Regions from separate parts of the Homo sapiens genome. Here region 1 is linked to region 2. Evidence: fine-mapped expression QTL. Tissue or cell type: blood mononuclear cells. Region 2 holds a variant in brackets; the other region holds the start of a gene. All regions are shown on one strand. Distances are between the middles of the regions.

Region 1 (11,063 bases), 55 kb before region 2:
GGCCTGCAGGCGGGAGGAGACCCACAGAGCAGCAACACTGGAACCTTCTGCTCATGTGAACACAGGCCGGGAGGTGGGCTGGTCCACTCAGTCCAGACCACCAAGAGTGCAGGGTCCCAAGCACTGTGCGCCCTTTCCCCATACCCCGTCCCACCAGGACTGCACACACCTGGGGTCATCTTACCACTCCCAGGAAGCCCCCTGACTCTCTGGGGGCCCCACTGGACTGGGGATTCCATGAGGGCAAGATTCCGGTCTCGTTTTCTGTGGGTGGCCCAACACCCAGCACACGGCGTGGGCCTAACACCCAGCAGATGGTGAGAAAAACTGAGAATGAGGAGCAGCTGTCTGGAGATTCTGCAGGAGAGGAGGCCCCGCCCTGGCTGCCATGCGCCTGCCTGTGGTTTCTCTGCAATGCGACCTCCCTGAGCCCACCCCAAGCTCCACATGCCCAGACCCCTCCAATGTCAGGGTTTCTGTCACAGAACTGCAGTTTGGGACAACTCATGGCTTTGCAGCGGCCTGGACTGTGGTGAGGATGTTAGTTTTGATGAATCCATGACCATAGCCTCAACCGTGGCGGCTCCAGGGAAGAGAGGAAGGCAGGACAGGAGGAGGGCGTGGAGGGCCTAGCTCCAGTGTGTCCAGCCAGCACCCTAGCGGCGTGACCGTGAAGAAGAATGTTTCAAATGTGACCTCCCCAAAAAGCCTGGGGTTGAGAGGAGGAAAGGAAGGGGCGTACAACGGCATACTTTATCTTTAATACTAGCTTTGAACTACCATTGTGATGAACTTCTATTGTGTTGGGTACAGAATGATTCTGTATTCAAAAACCAACCATTTCTACACAGCTGAACTAAGTAAGGCCTCCAGAGGGGAGGCGCTCTGCAGGAGACCCAACAGCAAGGCCAAACCGCCGACCGAGCAGCACAGGGCGCGGGCTCCTGCCATTCCAGAGCTCCCTTCACACTTGCAGCTGAGGGAGCTCAAAGGTCGATCCAAACTGAGTCATGGATGGGCTTATTCCACTGTTTTCCAAAGCCCCCAAGCCACAAATCAAACAACCCAGTATCAGACCCGCTTAAACACACTCCTGGAGCATTTGAGGGGAAGGAGCAATAAGATGTTTTCCAATGGCTCTGATTTAATCTTTTGGGGGACTGGGATGGAGGTGAGTCTCTAAAAGCAAAGGGACGGTGTGATGGTTGGATGAGCCAACTAACTTTGGGGCAGGTTTTTTTTTAAATTTTCATATATAGTATATTCCCAATTTCTACCAAAAAATTGTAATAGAAAATAATCACATATACATGAGAGCACAGTCCTGGGAGAAAGCCGAAAGTGGACATGAAATGTTGCTTCACGTGTAGCATGTATCATGTAGAACTGTGTCATCTCAAGCAACAGCCTACCAGACCATGCCCCCAGAGACCCCTCAACAGGATATCCCCGCAGAATAGGTCTCCCTCTTCCCTCAGTCCCTGCCTCCCCAGGCTGCACTCACTAGCGCTCGCTCATGACACCTGTCCACTGTGCCTAGGTCCGCACAGCTACACCCTCACGTTCTCCCAGGAGACACGGGACTTGCTAAAAATCACGCGGCTGCAATGCATCCAGCCAGGACTCCATTCTGGCCACCAGCGCTACGCTCCTCCTCTTGGCCACAGGAATAGCGTCAGGAGCTGCGCTTCTCTCCCAGAGCTTCTGTTTCCACCGCCAGAAAATGGGTATGTTCATTTCTCCAGTAAAGTGTTTAGTTCTATAAGGGATTCGATCAACTTAACAGCTACCAGTCTACCTGCCTCACAGAATCAACGTGACTCAACAGCGACATTTCGAAGTATCACTGAAGACTGCAAAAACCCCTGAAAGTTTAAGATAGAAATGGATGCAAATGTACCCTATGAGGAAGTGTTGTGCGAGTGGACGATGATGTCACCCGTCTACTCTCAGCTCCTTTTTCAAATTCGGTGAGGCGTTTGTGGACGAGCACACCATGCAAAGCGGAGCAGAGGACCCCATGTGTGTCCTACGACACTTATTTTAACATGTTATTTTCAACAAGCAATTAATATTCCGGGGCAAAACATACCGCAAGCTTTATGAAACTGACCAGATGGGAAAAATCTTTGAGGTGCCATTTTTCCACTGGCTCAGCAAGAATTACATTATCCAGACCCAGGGAAACCTCACCCGGCTCCATTCTAAAAGTCCACTGCTGTTGAGTGAGATGCCCCCGAGTCGTCCGGCCTGGGCTGACCATTCACGGGCTCTGGAAAGAAAGCCTTGGTCTCTCTGCGGAGGAGGAGAGGAACTCGGGCCCCCGCCCCGCCCCAGGGCCTCCAGGAAGCAGCCTGCAAACTCGGCGACCCCTGGGAGCCGTGGTCTGTCCCAGCACTTTGTTTCGGAGGTAGGCGCACTGGCCGCCCACTTCCTGAATTGTTCACTCAATTTTTTTACAACTTTTGCAGACTCTTTGCTGGTGCCAAAAAGTCCTCTGGCTCAGCTAAGAAACGTGAAAACTATTTTTGGCATGCAGAAAAGTCGCTACAGGACTAAATTAGAGTCGGCGCCTGAAACGCAGCCCGCGTTCACAGATCCCGAAAATGTTGAATCCGACTCGCTTCAGAACACAGGAGGCCTGCAGCGAACTCTGGCGGCATCTCGGTACCTGGAGCCGCGGGGCGGAGGGATGGGGATTCCTGCTGTGGAGACCGTGACGCGGGACGGCCCGCAGGACAGGGTGTCAACCCCAACGCAACGCATCCGGTTAAACGTATAGCGCAACTGCGAACACGCTCGCGTGGATTAGAAGCGAAAGAAGAGAAATGCCCGAGGCAGAAACCCGCTCTGAGTCCCGGCTCCATCTAGACCCGGGCTGCCCCGAGACTACCGCGCGGCCCCTCTCGGGAACCCCGGCCGCCCGGCTCGCTCCGGGCGCAGGAAAAGCCCCTGAGAAGCGCGGGGCCCCCAGGACACCCCAGGAGAGGACGCTCCGGGCAGATGCGGGGGCACTGGGAGCGGGGGCGCCGCGGCTGCGGGAACTGAGGCTCCTCTGGGGAGGCTTCCCCGGCGCGGGGGGATGGGGTGGGCACTGCGCTCCAAGGGGCGGGGGAGGGGGAGAGGGCGGAGGCTGGGGGAGGAGAAGGAAGGGGGGGAGGAGGAGGGGAAGGGAGGAGGAGGAGGAAGGGGAGGAGGAGGAGGAAGGGGAGGAGGAGGAGGAAGGGGAGGAGGAAGAGGAGCGGAGGAGGGGAGCGAACAGGACGAGGAACGGGGCGGAGGGGGCTGGGAGGACGGAGGGGGCTGCGCCGCGCTCGGGGAGCGGAGGGGGACCGAGGGGTCCTGAGCGGGGGAAAGGTGAGCGGAGGAGGGGCCGCGAACCAGGGGGAAGCGGGAGGCCGGCGGAGCATGAGAGGGGGCGGCGGGAGGCGAGCGGGGGGAGCCCCGGAGGCTCCAACAACTTCCCAGTCCTGCGGGGATTCCGAGTTCCGAACAAAGGCGGCTACGAAGGCCGCGCGCACAGCGCTCTGTTCCGCCCCTCGGCGTCTCCCGCAGGGCGAACAAAGGCCCAGCGGGTCCCCGCGCCCAGGTCCCCCCACGTCCCCCTTCGGAGGTTCCCTTCTGCGTCCCAAGTCCCCAGGCCCCCCGCGCGCCCGATGCCCCCTCCACCCTCCGCGCCCCCCACCTCCGATCACCCCTGCGCTCCCGGATCTCCACGAAGCCCCGGACCCCGCGCCCCCGGCGTCCCCCGCGGCACTCACAGGATGGAGGTCTGCGGCGCCACGGCGGGCACGGCCTCCAGCAGCAGATGCATGCAGCGCACGGTGGTGCGGAAGCACAGGCAGCGGCTCGGACACCCTGCGCCCGGCTTCTGGGCCACCACGGCCAGCGTCCCCCAGGCGCAGAACAGCACGAGCGCCAACAGGCAGCGGCGCCCGGGGCCCCTGGAGCGCTTGGCCATGGCCGACGGCGCGGACGGACGCTCGGACGCACGGAGCCACCACGGCCGGCTCCCGACTGCGCCCGCCCGGCCGCGGCCCACGTCCCAGCTGTGCGCGGGGGGCGGGGGGCGCCAGCTGTGCACATGCGCGAGGCTCCTCCCGGCCCCTCTGAATCCCCGAGGGCGGGGCGGGGCGAGAACCCGGGGCCCCAGCGTCCGGCCTGAGCGCCCTCATCCCGGTGGGGCGGCCCGCATGGCCAAGGCGAGCGCTCGGGGGCGCGGAGGAGAGCATTGGCACCCCTGATTCTGCGCTCGAGACTCGGGGCTCGGGACCCTGGGGCCTACGCGAAGCTTCTCCACTTCTCTTACCCGTGGTTTCTGCCTGCGCTCACTACGGGTTTTTTAGTTGGCGCCTTAATGTTTGTAACACTTTTAGAGCGCTTGCTCTGATCCGGGCACGATTCCAGGCGCGCAGGCGCGCTCCTCTCTTTCTCCTTCTCCCTACCCGCAACCACGTAGGAAATTATTTAACGTTCCAAAAAAGCCCCTCATTCCTTTTGAGGAAACTGAGGCCCAAGCCCCAAAGCGCACAGCAAGGGAGTCTGCGGGAAGATTAGACCCAGGCGGTCCGGCTCCCCGGGGCCTGTCAGCCACCTGCTCTCTGCCGGCCGCCTGGCTCAGCACAGTTGGGAAAATGAAAGGTCCTGTGTGGAGTCCTTGGCGCGGCGCAATGCAGCCCCCGGGATTCTCGCGGCCTTCAGTGCGTGCCCTCCTGGGACAGACCTAGGAGGAGACCCAGGGAACCCCCCCCCCCCACGTCGGGTGTGTCTAGAGACAGCAGAAGACTTTGGAAAGGAGGGAAGACACTGCGTGAGATACGCACAAAGGTGGCGTTCTCACATAGTTCATACATTCTCTCCAATCATCTCACAAGGACCCAGTCTGAATTTCACAGACAAGGAAGGTGAGGCCAAGTTGCTGAACCCAGGCCACAGGGTGACGGTGCCAGATTCAGAGGCACAGCATGGGCGTGTTCCCGTCGCAAACCCCAAGTCTCAGCTGTGTCCCCGTGCTGGTGTTCTAGCCTGAGCTGCGTTTGAAAGCAGCCTGGAATGGGATTGGTGGGTAATAGGCTAGTTTCCTGTTGCTATGTTAAAACACAAAAGCAACTACCACGAGACATAGCCCGGAGGTCACAGGTGCATTGCTGACCACAGGGCACCATCTAAGGACTGGACCCCCGAGGCTGCTGGCAGGGGGTTCCAGTTCCTTGCCGTGTGGGTCTCCATGGCCTGCACACTGGACATGGCCTGATGCCTCCCAGAGCAGGTATTAGAAGAAAGAGGAAGAGAATGAGAGTACAACACAGAAGCCAGGGTAAAACCTAACCCAGCCTTGGAACTGGCCCCGCATCACACCTGCGGGGTGCATCCTCAGAGGTCGGTGGCTCCCGCTGACATTCCAGATGCCATCTTTCCTGCAGGATTTTATCCACCCTCTACAGCGGATGCAGCTCACACTCCGGATTCCATTTCTCCTGCAGGATCCTATTCACACACTCCGGTGGGCCCAGCTCACACTGCAGACAACATCTCTCCTGCAGGATACTATCCACACACAGAAGTGGGTCCAGCTCACACTGCAGACATCTCTCCTGCAAGATCCTATTCACACATTCCAGTGACTCCAGTTCACACTGTAGATGCCAAAACTTATGCAGGATTCTATGCACACACACTAGTGGTGCATTTCACACTCCGGATGCCGTATCTTCTGCAGAATCCTGTCCACACATTTCAGTGGGTCCAGTTCACGCTCTACATGTGCTCTCTCCTGCGGGCTCCTATCCACACACTCCGGAGGTGCCATTCACACTCTAGATGCCATCTCTCCTGCAGGACGATGTCCACACCCTCCAGTGGGTCCAGTTCACACTCTAGAGGACATCACTTTTGCAGGATCCTCTCTACACATTCCACCGGTGCCATTCACACCACAGATGCTGTCTCTTTGCAGAGTCCTATCCACATGCCCCAGGGCTGCAGCTCACACTGCAGACACCATCACCCCTGCAGTATCCTATCCACACACCTCAGTGGGTCCCATTCACACTCCAGAGGCTATCACTTTTGCAGGATCCTATACACACACTTTAATGGGGCCAGCTCACAGTCCAGAAGCCGTTACTCCAGCATGATTCTAGCTACACACCCCAGTGGCCCAGTTTACACTGCAGATGCCTTGTCTTCTGCAGGATCCTCTCCAGGCACAACAGTGGGTCCAGTTCACACTCCAGTTGCCATCTCTCCTGCAGGACCCTACCCATACACTCAAGTGGGTCCAGTTCACACTCCAAATGCCATCCACCTGCAGCATCCCAACCTCTCACTCAAGTGGGTGCAGTTCACACTCCAGTTGCCATCTCTCCTGCAGGACCCTACCCACACACTACAGTGCTCCACTTCACACAGCAGACATCATCACTGCTGAAGGCTGCTGTCCACACAGTCCTGTGGATGCAGTGCTCACTCCACATGCCATCACTCTTGCAGGATCCTACCCACACACTCGAGGCAGTCCAGATCACACTGCAGATGTCATCACTCCTGCAAGATGCTATCCATACACTCCAGTGGGTTCGGTTCACACTGCAGATGCCATCTCTCCTCAAAGATCCTGTCTACACATAGCAGTGGTTGAGTTTGGGTCCCACCCAAAGATTCCAGTGGGTCCGCTTCCCACTGCACACGCCATCTCACCTGCAGGATTCTCTCCATACACTCCACTCAGTCCAGTTTACATTCTACATGTCGTCTCTCCTGCAAGATTCTATCCACACACTCGAGTAGGTCCAGCTGAAACTCCATATGCCATCGCCCCTGCGGGATCCTGCGCACACTCTCCAGTGGGTTCAGATTAGACTCCGGGTGCCATCGCCCCTGCGGGATCCTGCGCACACATTCGAGTGGGTTTAGTTCAGATTCCGATGCCATCACCCCTGCAGGGTCCTGTCCACGCACTCCAGAGGATTCATTTCAGACTCCGGGTGCCATCGCCCCTGCGGGATCCTGTGCACACACTCCAGTGGGTTCAGATTAGACTCCGGGTGCCATCACCCCTGCAGGATCCTGTGCACACACTCCAGTGAGTTCAGCCATCACCCCGCAGGATCCTGTGCACACACGCCAGTGGGTTCAGCCATCACCCCGCAGGATCCTGTGCACACACACCAGTGGGTCCAGATGCAGATGCCATCACTCCTCCTGGATCCTCTCCACACCCTCCTGTTGTTCCAGCTCACACTGGACGCCATCTCTCCTGCTGGATTCCATCCACAGATGCTCTTGCGTCCAGCACATGCCACAGCAGAGCATCAACTGGGAGCGTAAGGAACATGAGACAGAACCACTGGGGACCATCTTAGAGGCTGCCTACCACGTGTCACTCTTGAGTTTGTGTAGAACAGGGATGCTTGTGAGAATGCTTCTTCTGTATTTCCATAATGGCAGAATGCTGGGTGGGAGCTGCAAACATTATATTCAGCAGAGGAGGAGACAGAGTCCTAGGCAGACTTCAGTACAGTCCTGCTGTTAAGTACCTGGAGCTAGAGCAGACCCCGCAGGTTACAGATGTGGATGGACCTCAGTAAGGCTGCCCTCACTTTAATACTACCTGTGTGTCCAGTGGTCCCCAGGCCATCCACACTTCTGACTGGTTACAGATTCATAGGTTTCTGAGACCCCCTCCAGCTCCATCTCCTGCTGGAACCACCCACACAACAGATGAAAGTGCTGTGGTTACAAATACAGCTGTATTATAATTGATACCAATCTGAACCTCCAAATGAAATACATCAGGTGAGGTCAGGGAGGGTCCCAAATGCAGAGCCTCTGTGCCTGGCCTGTGGGATCAGGGCCCATCACCACCCGGCACAGGGACATGATCACCAACAGGGAAGCTCTACTGAGCTTTGGTGTCCAGAGTTTTCACCAGGGTTTTATGGCTCAAGCAGGACTGATGACACACTGTCCATGGGGTTGAACTCTCCAGGGAGGTCAGGCTGACAGCACAAGGCCCAAACACTTCACCCTACAATCGCATGGTCAGTCCTAGTGATCAGCCTCCATCCTGTGTTCCTTCATCAGCGTCAGCTCAGACATGGCTGGGAGCTCATCATGAATACACACGCTCCTGTCCCTGGGGAAATTCCAAGGGCTTTGGAAGCTCTGTCCCGGGAACCTGAGGAAAAGACCCAATTCCTTCTCAAACACACAAGCTTTACATGGATACTCGTGTTTAGGAAAGTGGCACCCGCTGCTGTGTCTGCCGTTTTAAGCAAGCACCCCGCTCACAAGGCGTAATTACCTTTTTGGTCATCTAGGGACCCTTTCCAAGCCATCCAGGTGTCCTAGGTACTAAGGAGTCACACATCTACCCGCAGCACGCTCTGGGGCTCCGTACTCACTTCCAGATGCTTTCCAGACATCTCCACCTCGATGTCCCACAAGAATTCCAATGTTATGATGTCAGAAACTAGAACATCGCTCTCCATAAAAAATGCGCTTTTTCTCCAGAATCTCTAATGCAATCCTCCGCCAACCTGGAGGTCATTCTCACCTCAATCCCTACCCCATCCTTAAATACAGCAGTCACAGGATCCTGTTAATTCCTTGTGCTGAGCACTGTTCCTTCCACATGGCTGTTGGCAGAGCTCTGGCCCCTGGACCACCACTGAGACCCCTCCTGGGCATGTGCCTTTGGGTCTGCCTGGCTCATCACAGAGAATGAAGCTCACAGAGAATGTGCCGCAGCTCGGACCCTGCCACCGCTGTATGCAAGCACCTCTCAGCCCCCTGCCTAATGGGGTGGGCTTGGGGCCACCATCTCCGGTGGCTTTGCGTCTGTTCTTCCAGCCCCTTCTCTCCACAAACACCAGACATCAACTTATTTCAACTTTATTTCCTGGCAAACTGCTACTGAACCTTCTAGAATCTGCTCAGTTGGGTGGCTCCCTCTGTGCACCCCTCCAGGCCCTGGTTCCCACCGTCTTCCCAGTGTGAATATCCTTCTAGTGCTACAGCCCACCCCACACAGCCCCAGGACAAGGTTTCCATGCCTAGCTCCCTGTCAAGGCCAAGAGCCCTCGGGGATGGACTAGAACAGTCATTGTTGGGTGAAAACAAGTGTACCATGTGCTACACTGCGTGCATTACTGCCCAGCCCCAGATGATCAGGTGGACTCTTGGGCAGCCTTGCAGTTCTGAGTTTGCCCTGACATTCGCTGGGGTGGGTGACAAAGACTAGAAACATCTGGAAAAGACCTCTGCATTCTCTGCTTTAAGTTTGCTCAAGTTTAGAAATCATCAGAAACATCATAATAATGATTATGAGGTCATTTCAGCATCTCAACAGAACTCCAGGGGAAGTGCTGGGTATGGACATTCCATCGTGAGGAGGGGCCCTGTGACTGCAGATACTCAATGCCTTCCAAGTGCGCTGGTGCCACCTTCAAGTGACACTTCTCAGAGTGTCACCCAGTGGCCCAGAGGCTCCCTAGTGTGTAGTCCACCCTCGCTCAGACACGGCGGCCTGTACCTGACATCCACACTCCCCACCTGCTGCCACCCACAGGAGCATTTCAGGGCATCACGAATTGGTGGCTTTTCTTTCCAGTTCAACAGGCATCTCCCAAGTCACCTGTGGTGATTGCTTTTATATGTCCACGTGGCCACACTCATCTAGACATTGCTCTGAAGGTATTGCGGTTGTGGTTAATCTCTATCATCAGTTGACCTTAGGTGGAGGAGGTGACCTTTGATGATGTGAGTGAGCCCTGTCTAAGCAGGTGGAGGCATTGAGAGCAAAACCTGAGGTTTCCCAGAAAAGGAGAAATTTTGCCTCAAGGCTGCAGCTTCAGCTCCTGATTTCAGACCTGCTGGCCCCACAATCACTTGAGCCGATTTAAAAAATCTATCCATCAATCAATGTATCCATCCACCCATCAACTCACCTATTCATACATGTACTCATCCTTGCATCCATTCATCCCTCCCTCCTTCTTTCCCTCCTTCGTTCATTCTTCTCCTCCCCCCTCCCTCCCTCCCTCCCTCCCCCCCTCCCTCCCCCCCTCCCTCCCTCCCTCCCTCCCCCCTCCCTCCCTCCCTCCCTCCCTCCCCCCTCCCTCCCTCCCTCCCTCCCTCCCTCCCCCCTCCCTCCCTCCCTCCCCCCCCTCCCTCCCTCCCCCCCCTCCCCCCCTCCCTCCCTCCCTCCCTTCTCTTCTTTCCTCCTTCTTCCCCCAATCCCTTCCCTCCTTCCCTCCCTTCTCCCCATCCCCATCCACGGATCCATCCTATGGACCCCATCCTATGTGTCCCTGAAGACCCCCGAGTGGCATAGCATTCGTTTGCATGTGTGTGGCATTGGCAGGGGAGTCTGGGCAGGGGGTGGTCAGTGCAATGACTTGGGCCTGAAAGAATGAGGTTTTGGTGGTGAGCTCTTCCCCTGTGGAGCTGAATGTGCAGCCGTGTGTTTTGTTCACGGCTTCCTGCGTCTGCCCTCTAGAGGCCCACAGAAGCCTCGCACCTCCCCAGCCCGGCGTCTGCGGGTGAATTGTCTGAGCAGGAGCACAACAGCTTAAGCTTCATGTTCTCCGGGCCCAGGTGAAATACTCTCACCCCCTCTGATGGCCACTTTCCAATCCTGTTATCCGCCCCCAGTCTTGTGATCTGTCCCACAGCAAACACTCCTTCCAGGTGTGAGTTGTGCCAAGGAACACTGTTTCGTTGTCACACATAGTACTTAGACGCAGTGAGTGAAGAGACACTTGGTCCCGGGCCCCCTTCTCTGCACACACTGCCCTGTGTGCTACAGCATGCCAGGCAGGGTGCCAGGACAGCAGGCCCGTGAAGACCATGGCGGCGGCTGTCTGAAGACCAGCTCACAGCAGGAGCTGCGCTGAGATCTTCTCCTGGGTGCTCATGCTGGGGCCCGAGGTCGTATGGAAAAGGCTTGTCCCCCTTGCTGGATGTCACAAGGCTCAGGTGAGTGGGTCAGAGCCATGTTCCCAGTGAGTTCCCGGTCAGTGTCAGCTCAACCACAGCAAAGGACAGCCGGGCAGGGCACC
Region 2 (11,761 bases):
ACAAACTGTGGGCTCTTTTTCTGGAAAATGGGAGTAATGCTCCTTGCCCACAACATCAACTCACACTGAGATGTGAGGCATGTTTGCAGTGAGAAGACATTTGTTATTCCTGGGGCCTCTGACCCAGCCTTAGGGGCCCAGAGTAAAGGGGAGCCCTCTCAGAACGTCTTGGAGCTGGCCAGCACGCTGCGGCGGTCATGGGAGACAGCACTGCTGAGAAAGGTGATGTAGGGGCTCCGCCCAGGCCCTCATACGCCAGGCCTCCTCCGAGGATGGGGCTGAGCAGGCTGGGGAGGGGCACAGAGGCCGGTGTCTCCCTTCCAAACCCAACCCACAGCAGCCACAGTACATGGTTCCTGGCACTCAGAAGGCATCCCTGATCACAGGTGCTTACGCAGGGAGGGGCCTGTGTCGCGAGTGGGTGTGGGGGCCTGGCTGGGAGCTGGGCCGGCCACCTCGGCCGTCATCAATGATGTGCGCTGGCGGACCTGAGTCTGCATTTCCAGAAACATCGAGTTGCCTGTGGTAAAGCAGGGAGCCCTCTGACGAAGGTGGGTTCTGTTTTTGATTGTTTAAGAAACATCAAAGGTTTTTCAGGCTGCTAGGAAGCAGTGCATTCCCGGATCTTCCCAAGAAAGTTCCTGCATCAGCAGCAGCCTGATGGCCAGTCTAGGCCCAAACCCGCATTTTTACAGACTTGTCCACACCCTCTGTCTTTCCAGACCTCAGCGTTTCTTAGATTGCGCAGTCTCTGACCACACCTGGAGTAGAGAAAGGTCAAATCTAGCCTGGGGCCTGACATTGAAAGCTAAGACTAAGCTAAGAATGGCGTTTGCATTTTTTAGTGGTAAGAAAAAAAACAAAAACAAAAGAATAACAGCATTTTGTAACATATAAGAGCTATTAAATTCCGACTGCAGCACCACGTGACGCTGTGTTGAAACAGGGTCACACTCACACGTGTTTTGAGGCTGTCACACTGCAACACAGCTGCGTGGTCCAGAAGCCTAAAATATTTGCCATCTGGTCCTTTATAGAAAATGTTTGCCAATCCCTGGTCTAGACTAAGTACCTTGATGGCGTGATGTGTTTAGAAAACATTTCCGGAAGAAGTGTAAAATGGGTGGGAATCCCAAGGCGTTAGCAGTGGGGTGGTGGAAGGGTGTAACCCCAAGGAAAGTGTCCTCGTGCAGGGAGGACTGCCTCCTGCCCATGCCCGTGCTGACCAGGGAGGCTGGATCACAGAGAGGCTTAGCCCCAGGGAGAACAGCCATCTTCTGAAAGTGGTGCAGGCTGTGGGATTAACTGACCTGCCAATCTTAGAAGTCAAGCTGCACAGGGCTGTTCACTCTGGTCCATCTGGGCCCTCGCACCAGGAGCTGGGGGGTTTCTTGTGAATAGCCTGTCCTGAAAACACGAGCTCCCTTTTATACTCAAATACCCCCATCCCCACCTCCCTGACAAATGCCTGCTGTTTGGGCCACGGGGGGCAGCATCCCAGCCTCCCAGCCGGCTCCGAGCCATCCTCCTTCTGCTCCTGCTGTTTCCTGTGCCTGGAGTGCTCCTTTCCCTCCTCCACCTCCCGTGTCTGCAGGACTCCCGCCGTCTCTCCTCGGGCTCCTTGCTCCAGGCCCCCACGGTGGGGTCTCGAACTCCGGCTCTCAGCACTCATGTGGTTCACACAAATGCCGCTTGCCCAGGCCGTGCCCTGCACTTGAGTCCCCTGCTCTCTCCTCCTCAGCGGCAGTTTTGTTTTTTTCCGGATTCTGATAACAAGCAACTTCTGGGTGTCCCCTGGGGCCGAGGGCAAGCTTTTCTTGTCTCTGCTCCGGGCTCTGGTGTGAACTGAGTTGAATCGGATGAGATGCGTCTGGGGAATCGTGGAGTCCAGAACCAAGGCTTGGGTGTGTCCAGCTTGGGTGCTTCAGCCCTTGAAGCTGAGGCCACACTGAATCCAGTTGAATGGGGTTGGGGAAACGCAGACCCCACAGGCACCTCGGCCGTTCTGCTGGTGCTGGGCCACCCCCAGAGGAAGCCTGCATTAGAGACTGGGAAGGGACCGGTGTCCGGACTTCTTTTTTTTTCTTTTCCCGCCCATGGCGCGATCTTGGCTCTCTGCAAGCTCCACCTCCTGGGTTCACGCCATTCTCCTGCCTCAGCCTCCCGAGTACCTGGGACTACAGGCGCCCGCCACCACGCTAGGCTTTTTTGTATTTTTAGTAGAGACGGGGTTTCACCGTGTTAGCCAGGATGGTCTCGATTTCCTGACCTCGTGATCTGCCCGCCTCGGCCTCCCAAAGTGCTGGGATTACAGGCGTGAGCCACTGTGCCCGGCCAGGGGCCCGGACTTCTGATTGCGTTTGTGTGAGGTGAAGACCCCGACGCAGACTCTTCTTTTCAAGCTGCCAAGCATAAGAATGGATTTTTCAGCCACATAGGAATTGTGTTGGTCGCACTAATTGGACCTCAAATAGCATTTAAACACATTCCAAATTGGAAACCTCATCTTCTCAATTAAATAAAATTGCGTTTGTCCTAATTTGAATTCTTACAACTGAACAGTGAAAAATACCTTTCCAAGTTTTAGTAAGAACACTCCTGGGCTTGAGAGGTAACAAGCAACCCCTTCCGCAGAGAGTGGCAGGAGAGGCCTTTCCTGCATCCGGCACAGGCGCGGCGGTCTCCCCCCATCCGGCACAGGCGCGGCGGTCTCCCCCTTCTCCGGCACAGGCGCGGCGGTCTCCCCCTTCTCCGGCACAGGCGCGGCGGTCTCCCCCTTCTCCGGCACAGGCGCGGCGGTCTCCCCCCATCCGGCACAGGCGCGGCGGTCTCCCCCCATCCGGCACAGGCGCGGCGGTCTCCCCCTTCTCCGGCACAGGCGCGGCGGTCTCCCTCCATCCGGCACAGGCGCGGCGGTCTCCCTCTTCTCCGGCACAGGCGCGGCGGTCTCCCTCCATCCGGCACAGGCGCGGCGGTCTCCCTCCATCCGGCACAGGCGCGGCGGTCTCCCTCTTCTCCGGCACAGGCGCGGCGGTCTCCCTCCATCCGGCACAGGCGCGGCGGTCTCCCTCCATCCGGCACAGGCGTGGCGGTCTTCCCCATCCGGCACAGGTGTGAAATTTAAAGGCTTGGACGGAGTTTCCTTTTTCCTTCTCTTGGATTTGTTCTTTATCAGATTTAAATCTGGACCTCTCCCTGTGCAGGACCCTCATCACCGGGCTGTAGGCCTGAGCACTGACCCTACCGTTCTTTCCTCCGCTCCCATTCCAGAGAGAACATCAGGCCGTGGGCACCCACTTCTCAGTTATCTCATGGCTTGGGCTTGGGACAGGCCTGCAGCCCTGTGTCATCTCTGGCTTGGGCTCTGTGCACAGGTCTGCATCCTCGTGTCAGTGTGTCTTGAACATGTCATGACGCACTGGGAGAAGTCTGCCTTTCTCTTGGGTCAGAGTGGACAAGAAAACACGGGGTCTGGGCCAGTTCCCCTTCCTGGCCATGCTCCCTGAGGGTGTGCGGGCCTGAGAGGCACGGGAAAGTCAGGACCTTCTAAAGGAAAATGCAAGGGGCATGAAGGCTGCTGCAGGAAGGCCGAGGCCATCAGGCAGGGCCGCTTTATGCCCTGGAGAGCTGGCCTGCCCCACGTTCCTCCTCCATACTCCCCGGGCAGTGGCCGAGGCACAGGCAGCAAGGAGGGCTCCTGGCTGTGGGCGCACATTGTTTTCTGGTAAGTTTTGCTCCAGATCTAACCTGTTTAAAGAACATCAGGCTCTAAGCTGCCTGAGTCAGCAGCTGCCTGTCTCTGAGCTCAGGCCTGGTGCTCACAGAACAACTTCTGGGCTGGAGCTCATCATCCGACCCTGAGAGCTGCAGAGCTGGGGGACTCCGGCTCAGCGCATTCCCATCCCTTCTAGAATAGAGGAAGGTCCATCCCTGGGCACATCTGGGAAGTCACCTCTCTCATCAGCCGAGTCAGTGAGAATAAATGTGAACTCTTCACATTCATTTTTGACATCAGGTCCAAATAGATGCTGTTAGGAGCAACTACTCATCTCAGAGATAAAGGCACAAAGGAGCCAGTGAGAACAGACACAGACCTGAGTGTTTCCTGAGGGGGAGGCCACGCCCGTGCAGGTGCAGAGCGTGCCTGGGGTTCCTACTCTAAGCAGCCTGCGTAGGCACATGCGTTGTTCTTTAGGGCTCAGATCCAGGCGGCATGACCTCTAAGCCTACTCAGCCCTCGGCTGAGCCCCAGCCCCAGTACTTCATCCACAGCTGGCATCAGAGCTGCCGTCTATCCCTCATGGACAGCCACGGAGCAGCAGGCCTTCACTGCAGAAGGAGGGGTTTTGGAAAGTGGGAAGAACCCCCTTCCTGAATGGCATCCTATTGGAATTGGGTTGCCCCAGTAGACCATGGACTCAACACCCTGGACAGACAAGGGCATTCTGCCTCATCAGAGAGTGCCCCAAAAGGTGCCATTCAAAGGAGGAAATAAATTAAGATTTTCAGGCTTGTCACCCTCATAAACAGAATACAACTTGATATGGTTTGGCTCTGTGTCCCCACCCAAATCTCACCTCGAATTATAATCCCTATAATTCCCACCTGTGAAGGGCAGGACCAGGTGGAGGTAATTAAATCATGGGGGCGTTCCCCCATGCTGTCCTCATGATAGTGAGTGAGTCTCACAAGATCTGATGGTTTTATGAGTGTCTGGCATTTCCTCTGCTTGCACTTCTCCTTCCTGCCACCTTGTGAAGAAGGTGCCTTGCTTCCTCTTTACCTTCTGCCATGATTGTAAATTTCCTGAGGCCTCCCCAGCCATGTGGAACTGTGAGTCCATTAAACGCATTTCCTTTATAAACTACCCAGTCTCAAGTATTTATTAGCAGTGTGAGAACGGAGTAATACTCAAGGGTGAATTTTTGATCTGTCCCAATTAAACAATCTTTGCTGACTTGGTCACCTCCTACTCTCTCCCAGAAACAGCAGCTCCTGAGTGCTCTGGCAGCCATGGAGTCTCCTATACAGTCCAAGATGCTGCCTCCATGGCCTCGGCTGGTCCCGGGGGTGAGGAATGCCACAGGCTGTTACTCCATTCCCCAAGCCTAACGTTCAGGTAAGTCTTAAGGGAAATTCCAACCTGTGTTGGGTGAGCCCCAGCCAGGCCAATGCGAGACTCTGGGAAGACCTGAACACAGCCCCTGGGGCTACCAGGTCTGTGAGATCAAGGCAGTGATGCCCTCTGGGGAAGTAGGTTGGCATCAAAACACCCAGGCAGCAGCCACATGGCCTGGTGGGGAGTTCCCACCCTTGGCCTCATCCTTGGTACTCACGGGGGGCCTGGAAATCCCTTTCGGTTGCTTGGTGGGGCCCCAGCCCCAGAGGATGTCTCCATCCTTGGGAAAACTGTGTCCAGTGGGTAGAAACCACCTGTTGAGCAGAGCCGTTGACCACACCCGGCTGACTATGGGAAAGGCCCTCAACCTTCCCCAGCCTCAACCT[C/G]TGCATTTACAGAGCGGGGATAATAAGGGAGCCCTCGGAGTGTGTTAGGAGGAGAGCATCATCACGTAGATGGCTGGCGGTGACACCATCCTCATCTCCATCCAGTTCTCGGGGCTCATTCCCAGCAAACCGAGCAACCTTCATGGAGGCTGGTCAGCATCCCCCGAGAACCTCATCACACCGTGGCCTGCTGGGGAGGGGCCAGAATGGAGACCTCATTTCTAAGAGGAAGGGACACCTCTGCTCACCCTGTGGGCAATGTGAGGGTCGGGTGGTCAGCAAATAAATTCCACTCCCAGAGTGTACTTCGGCGGGACCCTAACACAGCAAGGTGGGGGATGCCAGGCACAAGGCTCATGGTCAGACAGGGTCCAGCCTGGCCTCTGTGGCTTCGGCTTGGCTGAGGAAGCTGCCTCTCCATCTTAGAAGCTGTATGTTTAAGATGAGGCTGAGGACGTTTACCCTGTGGGCTGCTTGTGGGCATGGAGGGGGTTAGGTGACCACAGCTGCTCTGCCAGCTGCCACTGCTCTCTCTCCATCCCCAGGCTCTGCAGCTGCAAGTCACTGGGGCCACTTCCCCAAATCCCAGACACCCAGGAGTCCTATGTGGCAGGCACTCCTTGTTTTAAATTCTGGGAACATCGGCTGTCGCCATACATTTAATATAGTGATTAAATAACAGGAGGACCTGAAGTATCTTGGAAGGAAAACCTTCATTGTTTGCAGGAACAGGCGATCCTCTGAAAATGCCTATTCACAAATGCACTTTATTAAAAAACACAAACACACATGCAGACTGAAAACGAGAGAACCACGGCCCCTGCTACAGCGAACACTGCCACGGAATGGTGTCTGCGGAAGACCAATATCATAAGGTGGAAAAATAAAGGAAATAAAAGAGCAAATAAGAGGAAACGACAGCTCTCCTAAAAGCTGATTTCATGCCATGTATCTCTGGTATAATGGCGCGTGTTAGAGCTAAAATTGAGGGCTTCAAAAACTGTTACCTGAGTTCTGAGTTTAATCATATCGGCTTCCATCTGGGAATTGGATTCATTTAGCTCCTTGATTTCTTCATCTAACTGTTTGATTTCTTCATCATTTTCTATACCTGTAATAATGAATATTAGTATGTTAAAACTGTTATATACAAAAATATTAGAGTTAGAATTTTGGGAGCTTTCTTTGTTCCTTTTATATTCGTAATTGAATTTGCTTGGAAAATAGACTCTTGAATTAGAAAGGAAAAAATCATCACAATCTCTGTGTCTTTCTATTCCCTACCACCGCCCCTTCCCCACCTAAGTTCCCCTACAAAAAGGAACAAACAATTGAGACGCACAGAAGACTCCCAGGCACTTTGAGGGTCGAGCTCCCAGGGACAGTTAACCTGGGTCTTAGATGTATCGAGGCAGAAACCACCTGGTCCTGAGTGCCGATTTGCTGAGCCTGGCCTGTTTTCTCCTGCTTTTGTTCTCTCTCTCGACTCGCTGTCTGCATCAGTCATTCTGCAAACACCCCAGGCTTGGAGCCAGGCTCTGCAGGTACGTTCACCAACAAGGCCAGGTCCTCCCGCCCTCACTCAGGTCAGGTTCTGGGTCGGAAAATGGGCAACAGACGTGTAACGACAAATGCCGTCCAGCAAACGCTGAGGATGACCTCACCTTACCCACCGACAGGAAGCTGTGGGAAGTGGGAGAGGGACATGGGGGCTGGCCGGAGGGAGATGGCCACAAAAGGGCTCTCTGAATATTCGACATTTAGCAAATAAAAAATCTCATTCTGAATGATTAAAAAGTATGCACTAACTAACAGAATTCCCAATTTGTAAACTCTGCCAGAATGATGACCTCGGCCAGGTGTGTACCTGACCATCTGAGTGTCCCTGGTGGGTGACTGCTGCCCTGCCGAGGTCCCTGGGGCACCTGGATCAGTCCTGGCATAGCTGGGCACAGGGCCCAGATGCCCATATTTACAAAGGCCATTCTGGACACTTGCTTCCCTGGCCGGCTGTGTCTGGTTACTGGCAACATTACACTGCCAACGCCAAAGAGAAGGAGATTCCTCTCTATTTGTGACCACTTGACCTCACACAATTGGGTGTACACAGAAGGAGAGCAGGAGTTTGGCAAACACAATCACCCTAGAAAATTCAGGATTTGAGATTGCTGTTCTCATTGGCCACACAGCACCACAATGGATCTTTACTCAAAACTAATGGAAAATGTATCCAGGCCTCCTAGGACTCCCAGTGGGTAGATGCTGTTTTCAAGCTTTGCAGACAGAAGGGCAGAAGGGGTACAATCAACCAGAGGCCGAGGCCTGAGAGCACCCCAAAAACCCTGCTGACATCAGCAGAACAGAGGTGGAGGCTCCTCTCTACCAAGACGTTAGAAAGATGAGAGTAAGAGAAAGTGATGGATCAGTGGGATTGGGCCTTAGATGCGGCTTTTAGTGAAACGAAAAAAAAGTTATACCCTCAAGATAAAAATACCCAATGCAAAAAATCCCAATTCATAAAGCAACTAAATTATGAACGAACGTATCATTTCAGAAGCATTCCCCACAAGCTTCTGTTAAACTGCAAGCATCCAAATGCCTTTAGAACACCTCCATGTGAAGGAGGCCCTCAGAACACTGGACGTGGTGAAGCTTCGACCCTCTACAGCTGTCACAGGCAAATTTCTCAAGCACATTCCTAGGAATCCCATCTCGCAGAGGCCTTTCAAAAACCTTGGACTGGGATGCTTAGTTTGAAGAATTCATGATAAATGTCAAACTAACTGGCCTATCAGGCTTTGTTATCTAATTGATCTGCCAGATCAGGTCAACTGTTCTGACAGAAGTCAGTGTCATTTTAAATCCAAATAAAAGTCTTGATACGGGTCCCATGACAACCTTTCATCTCTAATTTTGTTCTGGGAGTGATGGATGGGTGGATATTACTTCCATAGCTCTGCTCTGTCCTGGGGGACCACCCTCAGGCCCAAGTGGTCACCAACAGCCCTTTGTGGGAGCCTGGGAACGTCTCAGTCCTGGGGCTGCCCACTGCGGCTCTGTGCAGCATGCCATTCCTTTGTAAGGGGGAGGAGGGAGACAGGGAAACGGTGCCAGGAAGAACCGGCAGGTCACAGAGCATTCCCGGCCCATGAGATTCTGTAGGACGAGGGTATGTGGAAGAGGAGGGCCTGCAAACTGATTCTGTAGAGCTGTCCACAGCCACATTCCTGGGACATCCTGCGAGCCCCCAGGCACGTGCGCCTCGGCGTGAAGCCCCCTCAGGGAGAGGAGAGCTCTGGGTTGGGTGGGAATTCTCCTTATCCCTGCAGCAGGGCAGTGACTGGCCCAGGAAGCAGTCCCTGGGGTTGCTGGGGCCTCTGAGCTGAGCCTCACTTTGTGGATGGTTAGGCTGGAACTAGGGTTTTTTTGTTGTTGTTGTTTGTTTGTTTTGAGATGGAGTTTGCTCTTGTTGCCCAGGCTGGAGTGCAATGGCGTGACCTTGGCTCACTGCAACCTCCACCTCTCGGATTCAAACGATTCTCCTGTCTCAGCCTCCTGAGTAGCTGGGATTATACGTGCCTGCCACTACACCCGGCTAATTTTTGGTATTTTTAGTAGAGATGGGGTTTCACCATGTTGGCCAGGCTGGTCTTGAACTCCTGACCTCAGGTGATCTGCCCACCTCAGCCTCCCAAACTGCTGGGATTACAGGCGTGAGCCACCGCGCCCAGCCACAACTAGGGTTTTATAATACATTCCACCAGTTGGCCTGCAAGCTGTCAGGAGAAACTGCCTTTATAAAAAACTGGCCTGAGCAGGGAGGGCCCAGCCAAAAAGCAGCATCTCAGAGCCAGAAAATCCACCCACTGGACACCAAAGCAAAGAAGCAAACAAATCCTACTCAAATTAGCATAGCGTGGTCCTGGAAGATTTTGATTTACTTCAGGATCCTGGTAGCTCTTGAGAGACCAGTGTCCCATGGTGAACCCAGCCAGCGCTGGTCACTCTCACTAATGGCTTGGTGGAATTTCCATGCCTCCTGGAATTTCCTTTTCCTTACAGCTGAATAGAAACGTGAGTTCCCACAGTTTGGAGCTCTCAGGAATATTAAGCGAAATAAGTAGGTGAAGTTCCTGACAAAGCGCTTCATGTTTTCAGGGCTTGATGGAGGTTAGAGCTCCTTTCCCTAGCTTGCTTTCTGCTGTGATAGTAAAAGGAAAGAAAAAGCATTATCTTATTTCCTTCTCTCCTAAACACTGCCCCTGCCCCCACTACCCGCCAAAAAGCCACTGATGGTACAACTTCAGCCAAGGTGCCAAGGTGCTAAGAGGCATACAGTGAACTTCTGCAAAAGGGTTCTGAAGGGAGACTCACTAACAGCCACGCCGGCTGCTCAGGCAGAGCTGAGTACTAATGCGTGATGAGATCACTCCACGGATAAAGAAAATAAGGTGATCCTTGTTGGGCAGAGACATGAGAGCAGGCTCATCCCTAAACTTAAAAAAGAAAGAAAGAAAAATACTTTAGAGCCAGAAGGGAACCTCAAGGACATTTAGAATAGCTGCTTCCCTTTCAGACAAATGCTCAAGAGAAAGCGCTAAAATCCAGTGCCAGGGTCCTTCTTGGCCGAGTCAGTGCCTCACAGTGGATTCCGGTGGCTTCTCTGTCCCACACAGTGTCTGGGCCTCACATGGAGGGAAGCTGCTGCGCACTCTTGTTACACTGAAGGTATAAAAATGACCCCAGGAAAGGCTTTACACTCAGGATATGAAAGAAAAGAAGGCCGGGCATGGTGGCTCACGCCTATAATCCCAGCACTTTGGGAGGCTGAGGTGGGCAGATCGCTTGAGCTCAGGAGTTCAAGAGCAACACAGGGGGCAACATAGTCAGACCTCATCTATAGTAAAATATTTAAGGCCAGGCATAGTGGCTTACACCTGTAATCCCAGCACTTTGGGAGGCCGAGGGAGGTGGATTGCTTGAGCTCAGGAGTTTGAGAGCAGCCTGGGCAACATGGCGAAGCCCCATCTCTACCAAAAATACAAAAATTAGCTGAGTGTGATAGTGCACATCTGTAGTCCCAGCTACACAGGAGGCTGAGGTGGGAGGATCGCTTGACCCTGGGAGGCGGAGGTTGCAGTAAGCCAAGATGGTGCTACTGCTCTCCAGCCTGGGTGACAGAGCGAGACCCAGTCCAAAAAAAGAGAGGGATTGTCTTTTCCACATCTACAGCAAGGGCAACAGGAACACAGAGCTTCAGATGCAAAGAATGGTACCACAGCATCAGGAATTGGATGCTGTGCCTCTGTCCCCTGAAGAGCATCAGGAATTGGATGCTGTGCCTCTGTCCCCTGAAGAGCCGCAGGAATTGGATGCTGTGCCTCTGTCCCCTGATGAGCAGCAGGAAAGGTCCCTGGACCCTTCCTGGATTAGCTACACAGACATGGAAATGATGCCTGGGCACACAACTGTGCTCTGGGGGTAAGAAAGAACTATCTCAGTTTGGTGCAAACAGTGTCAGGAATCGACAGCCCCAGGCATCAGCACACACTTGGACTTAGGAAGACCCACTTCCACCACCTGTTCTCCCAGTGACCTGCAGCTCCTCTTTTTTACCCATGGACGTGCGTGCATTAGGATCTGCAGCAAGGGGAACTGTTTGTCCTAAAACTTAGCACAACACGAACTGTGTGTCTAGAAACTTGGGTGAAATGCAGCGACCTGGCTGAAGGCTGCCCAGCAGCAGCAGCTGGGCCCAGCGGGCGGACGGTGGCCCTGGAATGCCCGTGTCCCGGCTGCTTTCTGGTGGGATGACACCCAGTTGTTGGTTCCTCTAGTTTAGAGTCACAGACCAACTGCTTATCTTTATCCCTCCGAGTTAGCACCTGTTTTTGTGAATTAACTCCTTGTGTGCAGCAGTAATAGGAATGTCTAGTGCCCTCAATGCCGACTCAGGCCCACCGATGAAGAGATGGCCACCTCAGGGATCTGCCCACCGCCGCCCAGGTGGACCAGCCCAGGTGTGAATGGCCCCTCCTCTAGGATTGGCAGATCTGTTCTCTCCGTATTTTCTTTCCTTTTCTGTTTTGAACTGGCCTACCTAACCTAACCGCCACTTCCTTCATTAATGGGGAACAAAGGCACGTGGACTCGGATCAATTGTCTAAGGATTTCCACTTTAATCCAGGGTTATTCGGGGGTGAAATGCCCTCTAAGTATTTTGAAAAGCGCCCGGCATGCAGATGGGGCTTAGGGA

The links. PIP is the estimated chance that this variant, and not a neighbour inherited with it, causes the effect.
Region 1: PXDN starts here. The variant in region 2 is fine-mapped to the expression of PXDN in blood mononuclear cells (TOPMed, PIP above 0.99). The same link has a PIP of 0.9 or more in NK cells, T cells and whole blood.

What each region holds. Positions count from the first base shown.
Region 1 is chr2:1,740,495-1,751,557 of GRCh38, forward strand. It overlaps PXDN (peroxidasin), which reads right to left and starts at 4,021. Exons shown (of 23, transcript NM_012293.3): 1 at 3,762-4,021. The coding sequence starts at 3,961. It overlaps LOC124907724 (a long non-coding RNA gene), which reads left to right and starts at 10,233. Exons shown (of 2, transcript XR_007086189.1): 1 at 10,233-10,980. RefSeq lists an enhancer at 10,786-11,063.
Region 2 is chr2:1,795,184-1,806,944 of GRCh38, forward strand. MYT1L (myelin transcription factor 1 like) reads right to left here. Exons shown (of 25, transcript NM_001303052.2): 23 at 6,513-6,616. Among named protein-coding and RNA genes, the nearest start is that of PXDN, 57 kb to the left of the region's middle. RefSeq lists enhancers at 6,562-7,063, 7,064-7,563, 8,790-9,422. The variant C/G (reference allele first, on the strand shown) is at 5,506.